2 separate regions of the Homo sapiens genome follow, and region 1 is linked to region 2. Evidence: fine-mapped expression QTL. Tissue or cell type: tibial nerve. Region 2 holds a variant in brackets; the other region holds the start of a gene. All regions are shown on one strand. Distances are between the middles of the regions.

Region 1 (4,165 bases), 150 kb before region 2:
TACTCTTACCTCATCTGTTGACTAATTGTGTGATCTTGAGCAAATATCCCCTCGAAGCGTTGGGTTCTTAAAAGTATATGCCCTTGACATGATTGCAAAACACCAATCACACAGAGCATCCACTACTGCACCTGGCATCTAGTGGGTACTTGGTAAATGAGAGCACTAGCTGTTGTGTTATTATTATGGGTGCAACTTAGAGTTGGTCCTGGCTAAATAGGTTTTGCTCACAGAGGCTAAACTATATGCCAAACCTAGGAAGCTTAGATCTGCACACCCCACTTGCAGATCTAAAGCATTTCTTAAGAGAATTAAAAATGGGACCAGGGCCAGGCACGGTGGCTCATACCTGTAATCCCAGCACTTTGGGAGGCCAAGGCAGGTGGATCACTTGAGGTCAGGAGTTCAAGACCAGCCTGGCCAATAGGTGAAACCCCATCTGTACTAAAAATACAAAAATTAGTCGAGCGTGGTGGTGCACGCCTGTAGTCCCAGCTACTCAGGAGGCTGAGGTAGGAGAATCACTTGAACTCAGGAGGCAGAGGTTGCAGTGAGTTGAGATCACGCTACTGCACTCCAGCCTGGGTGATAGAGCGAGACTCCATCTTAAAAAAAAAAGCGGGGGGGGGATACCAGGTTGAGGAATATAGGCGAATCTGATAAACGAGGTGTATTTGACATGCCCACCCTGCTTGTTTCTCTGCAATTTCATGAGGCTGCAGGGGTGGGGAAATGGAAGTTGCCTTTGACCTGACCCATGGCAGCCACTCATGACACAGGGAGTTAGCCTGTGTTCCACAGGATTCACTCCTCTTCTTTTCCCCAGCAACTTGTATCCATATGAGTCCTAAGACCCTCCCCATACAGCTGCCACCTTCCTTAGTGGTGTCCTGGGAAGGATGGTATTTGATGACTTGATAATGCTCAGTGGGTTATCCTCCAAGAGATATTTGCTTTTGAGCTCAGGATAAAGCCTCAGTTAGCTCAAAATAACAAACCTATAAGGATTCCTGTCAGAATCCCTAAGTGCCTGGCACCTAGTAGGTGCTCAAGAAATACTTATTAAGTGATAAATGGAGGGGATTTCAAGCACTGTTGTGAATTCCTGAGGGGCATCCTTAGGCCTGGGGACTTTCCTGGGACCATTCCAATCACCCCACAGAGGGTGCTTTCCTGTTGCAGTTATTCAGAAGGCCCGCCCTGAGCAAGGGCTCCAAACCAGGATTTCCTTCAGGGTTGAGGCCGACTCTAGTGGCAGCTTTAGGCGCTTCCTCGCTTCACAGTGCTTTAGCGCCATTAAAGCTCTGCTTTGGAGGACTGGGGTCCCAGGGGGAGTGAGAGAAAGCTCACCACTTAAGTCATTTATACTTTGGCTGCCCAGGCCTGAAAAAATGCCCTTGGGACTGATCCTGAAGTGCGGAAGGATAAGTTAAATGGCTTAATAGATCCTGGCAGCTTCGGAAAGGACTAATGGCTCAGCATTAATTGGGTACATAGAGTGCAGATGAATCTCTGAAAAGGTATTTCAGATTTGCCCGTTCAGCTTTCACTGGCTTCAAAGCATCACATCAGTTGACTCCCAAACAATGTGGATTATTAAAGAAATATGAATACTCGATATTTGCATCGACCTTCATATTTCTGGTGCTCTTGTTTATCCCCTGAGCAACAAACTGAATACCACTATGTGGCAGGGATTGTGCAGGGGGCTAGAGATAGATGAAGTTCCTGTCCCTGTCCCCACATGCCTTTATTCTGGAAGGCAGAGGTTGGGAATTTGAAAACAATGAGACAGCTGCTGGGTTGGAGGTCGATCCCAGGAAGACACAGAGGAAGGAGGAGGCCGGGGCTCCGCCTGGGTGGTAGGTGGCAGTGGAGGCTTCCTGGGTGGGTGGGGACTGGGGCATATGCCAGGCCTCCAAGGCAGGCAAACAAAGGCTCTGGCCGAGGGAGCAGCATGTGACTCACGCAGGGGGTTGGATGGGGAGCACACATGAGCTGGAGGGAGGAGGAGGGGGCTGGGCGAGGTAGGCAGGAGTCAGATAACGAAGAGCCAATGGGCTGTCAGGGGAGCGTCTGCCTGCACTGTGATGTGACTGTGAGTCACCGCAGGACCGGAACACGGACAGGACATGTGCGGCTCTGGGCTGTAAAAAAGACACCACTGAGAGTACAGAAAACACCTGTGAGAGAGGCTGGCATCCAGGGCGGGAAACCTCTTTTGAGGGCGTGAACCAGGATGTGAAGCAGCATTTGAATTCTTGCTGCTCTCTTCTGGAGCAGTGGGATATTGGGCAGTTCACTTAACCTCTCTGAGCTCCTTCCTCAAGGTGAGGAGAAAATGAAAAGATGTCTGAAAAAGAATATCTCAGGCACTTTGGTTGTAAGTGACACAGAGAAAACCATCTTTTATTTTTATTTATTTATTTATTTATTTTTTGAGACAGAGTCTCACTCTATCCCCCAGGTTGGATTGCAGTGGTGCCATCTTGGCTCACTGCAACCTCCACCTCCCTGGTTCAAGTGATTCTCCTGCCTCAGCCTCCTGAGTAGCTGGGACCACAGGTGCACCACCTTCACCCTTGGCTAATTTTTGTATTTTTAGTAGAGATGGGGTTTCTCCATGTTGGCGAGGCTGGTCTCAAACTCCTGAACTCAAGTGATCTGCCCACGTCAGCCTCCCAAAGTGCTGGGATTACAGGTGTGAGCCACTGCGTCTGGCCCAGAAAACCATTTTGAACCAGCTCAGTCAAAAGGAAGAATTTATGGGTAATCTCCTATTGCCCTGGAAGAGGCAGCGGTATGGAGGCCCTCAGGGTGGCAGAAACAGCTGCTGCAGGAGGCTCTCTCTCCATCCTTCACACTCCTGCTGCCCTCTGAGCACTGGTGCCATATTCCTCCCTGGAAACATGGCCAGCTACTGTTCACACGCCACAGATCACAGAGCTTCAGCACTTTCTGTAGTCTCTTTCTGTAGTTTCTGGTGGACAAATCCTGGAAAGAACTTTGATTGGCCAGGTTGGGGCTGGGTACTCTTCCATTGACCGGTCAGTTTGGACAGTGGGCAAAAATTATCATGACTGACCCAACTCAAGCCTTGTGGCCCCACTTCAGTCAATTAAATATGACCAGGGGAGCCACAGTTTAGAAACTGTGATGGCTCCCACTGAGAACACAGGATTGCAGTGTGGGAAAGAGTATTTCCTAAAGGTATGGGTGCTACGGGGTTGCTACGGGCTGAATGTTTGTAGGCCCCTAAGTTTGATACATTGAAGCCCTAAATCCCAAAGTGCTGGTGTTAGGAGTTGGTGCCTTTGGTGGTGATTAGGATTCGATGAGATCTTGGCTGGTATCCTCAAAATGGGATTTGCACCTTTTTAAGAAGAGGAAGACAGAGATTTCCTCACATACACCAATGAAAGGTCATAAGAGAACACAGTGAAAAGTCATCTATAAACCAGAAAGAGGATCTTCCAAGAACCAAATCTGCCAGTACCTTGATCTTGGACCTCCCAGCTCCAGAATTGGGAAATGAACATCCGTTGTTTAAGCCACCCAGTCTATGGTATTTTTATAGTAGCTCAAGCTAAGACAGAGGTGCAATCCCAGAAAATGAGAGATGCTGGGTAGATAAAACTGGATCAGCATTACAAAACACTTTGTAGATGTAAAACATTATACAAATATTAGATATTGAAGATATTGTTCCCTCTTTGAGAGTGGTACTTCTTTGGATCCATCTCTCTAGTTTCGGTGTGTAGAATAGTTACTGACACATAGTAGGGACTTTGTAACACACGGTACTGAGTTAGTGAATGCCACAGATTGAATTAGTGGATAGTCAGTGGACAGCATAACAGGCAGAGGAGTCCAACTTTATTAGAGATTAGGTTCTAAAGTCCACACAGGCTGGGCACAGTGGCTCACGTCTGTAATCCCAACACTTTGGGAGGCTGAGGCAGGAGGATTGCTTGAGCCGAGGAGTTCAAGATCAGCCTGAGGAACATAGCAAGACTCTGTATCTATTAAAAAAAAATGTGAAAATTATTTTAAAATTAGCCGAGTATGGTGGTGCACACCTGAAAAGTTCCAGCTGCTAGAGAGGCTGAGGCAGGAGGATTGCTTGAGCCTAGGAGGTCAAGGCTGCAGTGAGCCATGATAGTGC
Region 2 (4,165 bases):
TCTGACAAACAGAGCTGGGGAAGGCCATGAAGGAAGGGATCTCATGCACGAATGCCTGATAACAAGAACTATCAAGGCCGGGTGCAACGGCTCATGCCTGCAATCCCAGCAAGAGGAGGGAAGATCGCTTGAGCTCGGGAGTTCAAGACCAGTCTGGGCAACACAATGAAACCTTGTCTCTACAGAAAAATTTAAAAATTACCTGGTGTGATGTCTCACACTTCTAGTCCCAGTTCCTCGGGAGGCTGAGGTGGGAGGATTGCTTGATTGCTTGAGCCCGGGAGATGGAGGCTGCAATGAGCTGTGATTGCACCACTGCACTCCAGTCTGGCCAACAGAGGAGACCTTTTCTCAAAAACAAAAACAGCAAAAAAGTAATACAAGACTCTACCAAAACCACAACCTTTCATTGCACAAAGGCCATTGCAACCTTACATTTCAAAAAAAAGAAAAAAAAAAACTTCTGCTGAAGACACTTGCCCAAAAACTTCCTATCCAGCCTCGGACTGGTACCACCTTGTTATTGATCTGTGTGGCCAAGGATAATTATCGCAAAATAATTATATAATCCTCCTTTTTTCTTTAAAAATCTTCCTTTATCTCCCTGAACACACAGTTTACTATGGCACATGTATTCCCATTGCAATGCCCATTCCCAAATAAATGTCATTTTGCTTTAGAGAGTTTCCCTCTGTTTGTTATCTAGGTTGACATACTCTATTAAAATGACACAAATTAAAAAAATAAGAGTGCTGAGATGAATAGGTGTTTTGGCTCTTCACTGAGGGAAAGAAAGACCTGTAAGCAGCCGAGTCCAATTGAGAGGTTAAGTGCAGACATGGAGGTGTGTGTAAAATTCTGTGTGAGAAAACAGGTCAGAGCACCTAATTCTGTTTGTGAGTTACAGGGGAGTATGAACATTTGGAGGAGGCTTTACGAGGTCAAGAAGGTCATTTCAAGTTGTGGAAACACAGCCCATTGGTTGGCTTGAAGGTATGAATATGTGTGTCATTATTGCAGGATTGTGAAAAATTAGTGACTGGGACATCAGCTCTGTATGGGGAGGTGAGAAAGATGGGGAAGGGAGGCAAACAGGTTTTCTTTTTTCTTTCTTTTTTTTTTCTTTCTTTTTTTTTTCTTGAGATGGAGTCTCTCTCTGTCGCCCAGACTGGAGTGCAGTGGTGCCATCTCGGCTCGCTGCACCCTCCACCTCCTGGGTCCGAGCGATTTTCCTGCCTCAGCCTCCTGAGAAGCTGGGACTATAGGTGCCTGCCACCACGTCCGGCTAGTTTTTGTATTTTTAGTAGAGACAGGGTTTCACCATGTTGGCCAGGCTGGTCTTGAACTCTTGACGTCGTGATCTGCCCGCCTCAGCCTCCCAAAGTGTTGGGATTACAGGCGTGAGCCACCGCGCCCAGCCGCAAACATGTTTTATAACAAAGATATGCAGCAAATTTCTTCCTGTTATATTTTAACAGTAACAAAATGCAATTATTTTAACAATAAAAGTGGGAAAGAAAATAATGCAGCATAGTTTTCATGACCACCCTGTTTAGATAAAAGTTCACCTTTTCAAATATTCCAAATCATAACAATTCCACTGGGTCATGGTCCATTCCTGGCCACTGAGCTCCTCATGAAAGTAGAAGTCTAGAAAGTGGAGATATTTCTTCTATAATTACAAATGGCAAGACTGATGTTAACTTATTGTGGCTTAAGAGATGTCTCTGACAGGTTGGGGTGAGACCTTTGAATTTAAAAAAAAATTTATACAAATTAATGGGGTACATGTGAAATTGTGTTACATGTATATAATGCGTAGTGATCAACTCAGGGTATTTAGGGTGTCCATCACCCGAGTATAAAACATTTTTCTTAACTATAGTCACCCTACTCTGCTCTCAGACATTGAATGTATCCCTTCTATCTAACTGTATGTTTGTACCCTTCAACCCACTTGTCTCCAGCCTCTCCCCTCCCGCAGACTTGAATATTTTGTTGATCTTGCAAGGGAAGAAATTCAAAAACACTTCAAGAGAAAATAGAGAGGACAGAGGTTAAAGCTGTAGAAGTCTTTGTTTCTTTACTCTTATCGACCAAATGACTTCTAGG[C/A]ATAAGTGTGTGCTTGTGCTCACACACAGTGAATTATTTGTAGTTATTTACAAGATCACTCTATTTCATAATTGTAAGCTTTCAAATGGACGTTAATGATGAAATTCAAATGCCAAAGGAACAATGCATGTCATAATTCACAGGGCTTGCAGGCCATTCCAGCCTTTATAATTGCTACCCAATTAATGGTGACGCTTAAGCATACTGGAAACAATAGCAGAAAAGAGATTTACTTTTTTTTTGTCGAGGGGTGGGTTAGAGTTTGGGTCTCACTCTGTTACCCAGGCTGGAATGTAGTGGTGCAATCATAGCTCACTGTTGCCTTGATAACTTACTGCTTGGCTCAAGCAGTCCAAGCTGGGACTATAGGCATGTGCCCCTGCACCCAGCTCCAGGAGATTTACTTTGAAAATACTCTTTGAAATAATGCTAAGGCAGCTGAAAGCTCCCTGGGTGGAAAAAGCAGAGTAGGTCCTGGAACTACCAGGACACTTCCTCAGAGAATTTGAGAGATTGGGTGCTTTGATCTCAGGTTTGGCTCTCTGAGCCTCTCCCAGAGGGTGTGTTCTATCCTGCCCTGATCCAGGCCCTGATCCATTCAGAAAGTTCCCCAGAGAAAGCAGTTTCAGAAATAAGAGAGAGACAGTAACAATTCAAGCTTTCTTCTTCGGTGGTTACAAAGAGGAGGAGAACACAATAACCAGCACAGGATGGCTTAATTTTAAACGTTAAAAAGGAGAGAGTGAAAAGCAAATATGAAAACGTATTTCAAATTCCAAGGAGAAAAAAAAAGAGCAGCAACTCCCCACTTCGACTCCTGTGTGTGTTCATGGTGTCTACCCTGCCCAAGGAATCACAGGGCTGTTCATTATTTTGGAAAAAGGAATTTGTTATTGACATATCGATGTGTGCCCTTAACCATTTGGTGGGTTTTATTTTTCAATGCCCCTCTTTCATGTTCTGGAGTTTTTCCGGGACAAGGCCTCTCCATCCTACGGGATTACACATGGTCAGATTCATTTTACATTGGATGACAAATTGCATTTGAATTCATCGGGTTGAAAGGTCAGGGCTGTTCTCTGTTACCCAGTCAGGCTCCCTCAAAGTGTCTCAGTCATGAGAATATGTTGGAATCCCTGGGTACTCCATGCCGCTGCCCGCCCAAACCCTCATGAATACTGAACTCTGCGCCGACTTGGATTCCTAATTGGTGACTCCATCAAAAGGAGGAACCACAGCCAAGGACAGACAAAGTAAACGGCGTGGGGTCGTGTCATTCCTCTCCCACAGTCTGTACTCAGTGGTAACCCAGAATTTTTAAAAAGATCTATTTCCTGAACCCTAAATAGGAGATATTTTCTCCAGGATACTACTTCGTGACAATAAGTGCCTTACCAAAGATATGCCCAGAATTATTGGGAGGGGAATAAAAACGTAGTTCTGTACTATGGTTGTAAAAAGGTTGAAGAATGTTTCTAACCCAAGTAGCCCACAGGCCCAACAGCTTTTATCTGGTAGAGAAGGTTTTGTTCTGCTAAGTTTACATTAATTTGATTAAAAGTGACTGACCCCAAGATGCTTGGTTCTCCTATGAGCACCTTGTTTTGGTCTCTGGGTGGGCTAGGTATAAATGTCATGCTACACACACACGAACGCACATAAGGAGAAAAACCACATCCACTCGGATTCTGCTGGTTTTAAATCTTGTGCCATTCACACTAGTACTGGCTAGAATTTAGTTTTGTACTATCTCTAATCAAATGAGTTTTCATAAAATTTTAATAGTGAAAGGAAATTGTAAATAAAACACTCAGGAAATTTTTTTCAAGTACTTTTGAGCTCTAGCTAACATAGAAACAACATGCAAATTTCAGTCATTTTTTTACCTAAATCATTTAAGACGATTCTTTCAAGTCTTTTGCTAGGCTATATTAATACCAGTTTATTCAGCTAAATAATTACTTACCTCCTCCTTTCTCCAGGTTTCCAGAAACATCTATTGATAATTATGTTAAAAATGATGATATTGGTCATCATGTATACTTGTTATTAA

Which allele goes with the higher level. Alleles are on the strand shown, and positions count from the first base shown. SD is a standard deviation of normalised expression in the study named.
For the expression in tibial nerve of the gene that starts at base 2,161 in region 1, allele A in region 2 goes with a lower level than allele C (small effect, 0.32 SD a copy in GTEx).

The links. PIP is the estimated chance that this variant, and not a neighbour inherited with it, causes the effect.
Region 1: RDH10-AS1 starts here. The variant in region 2 is the best candidate, but not a certain one, in a credible set for the expression of RDH10-AS1 in tibial nerve (GTEx, PIP 0.57).

What each region holds. Positions count from the first base shown.
Region 1 is chr8:73,354,457-73,358,621 of GRCh38, reverse strand. RDH10-AS1 (RDH10 antisense RNA 1) reads left to right here and starts at 2,161. Exons shown (of 6, transcript NR_125388.1): 1 at 2,161-2,330.
Region 2 is chr8:73,202,116-73,206,280 of GRCh38, reverse strand. LOC107986891 (a long non-coding RNA gene) reads left to right here and starts at 922. Exons shown (of 3, transcript XR_001745719.1): 1 at 922-993. The variant C/A (reference allele first, on the strand shown) is at 2,113.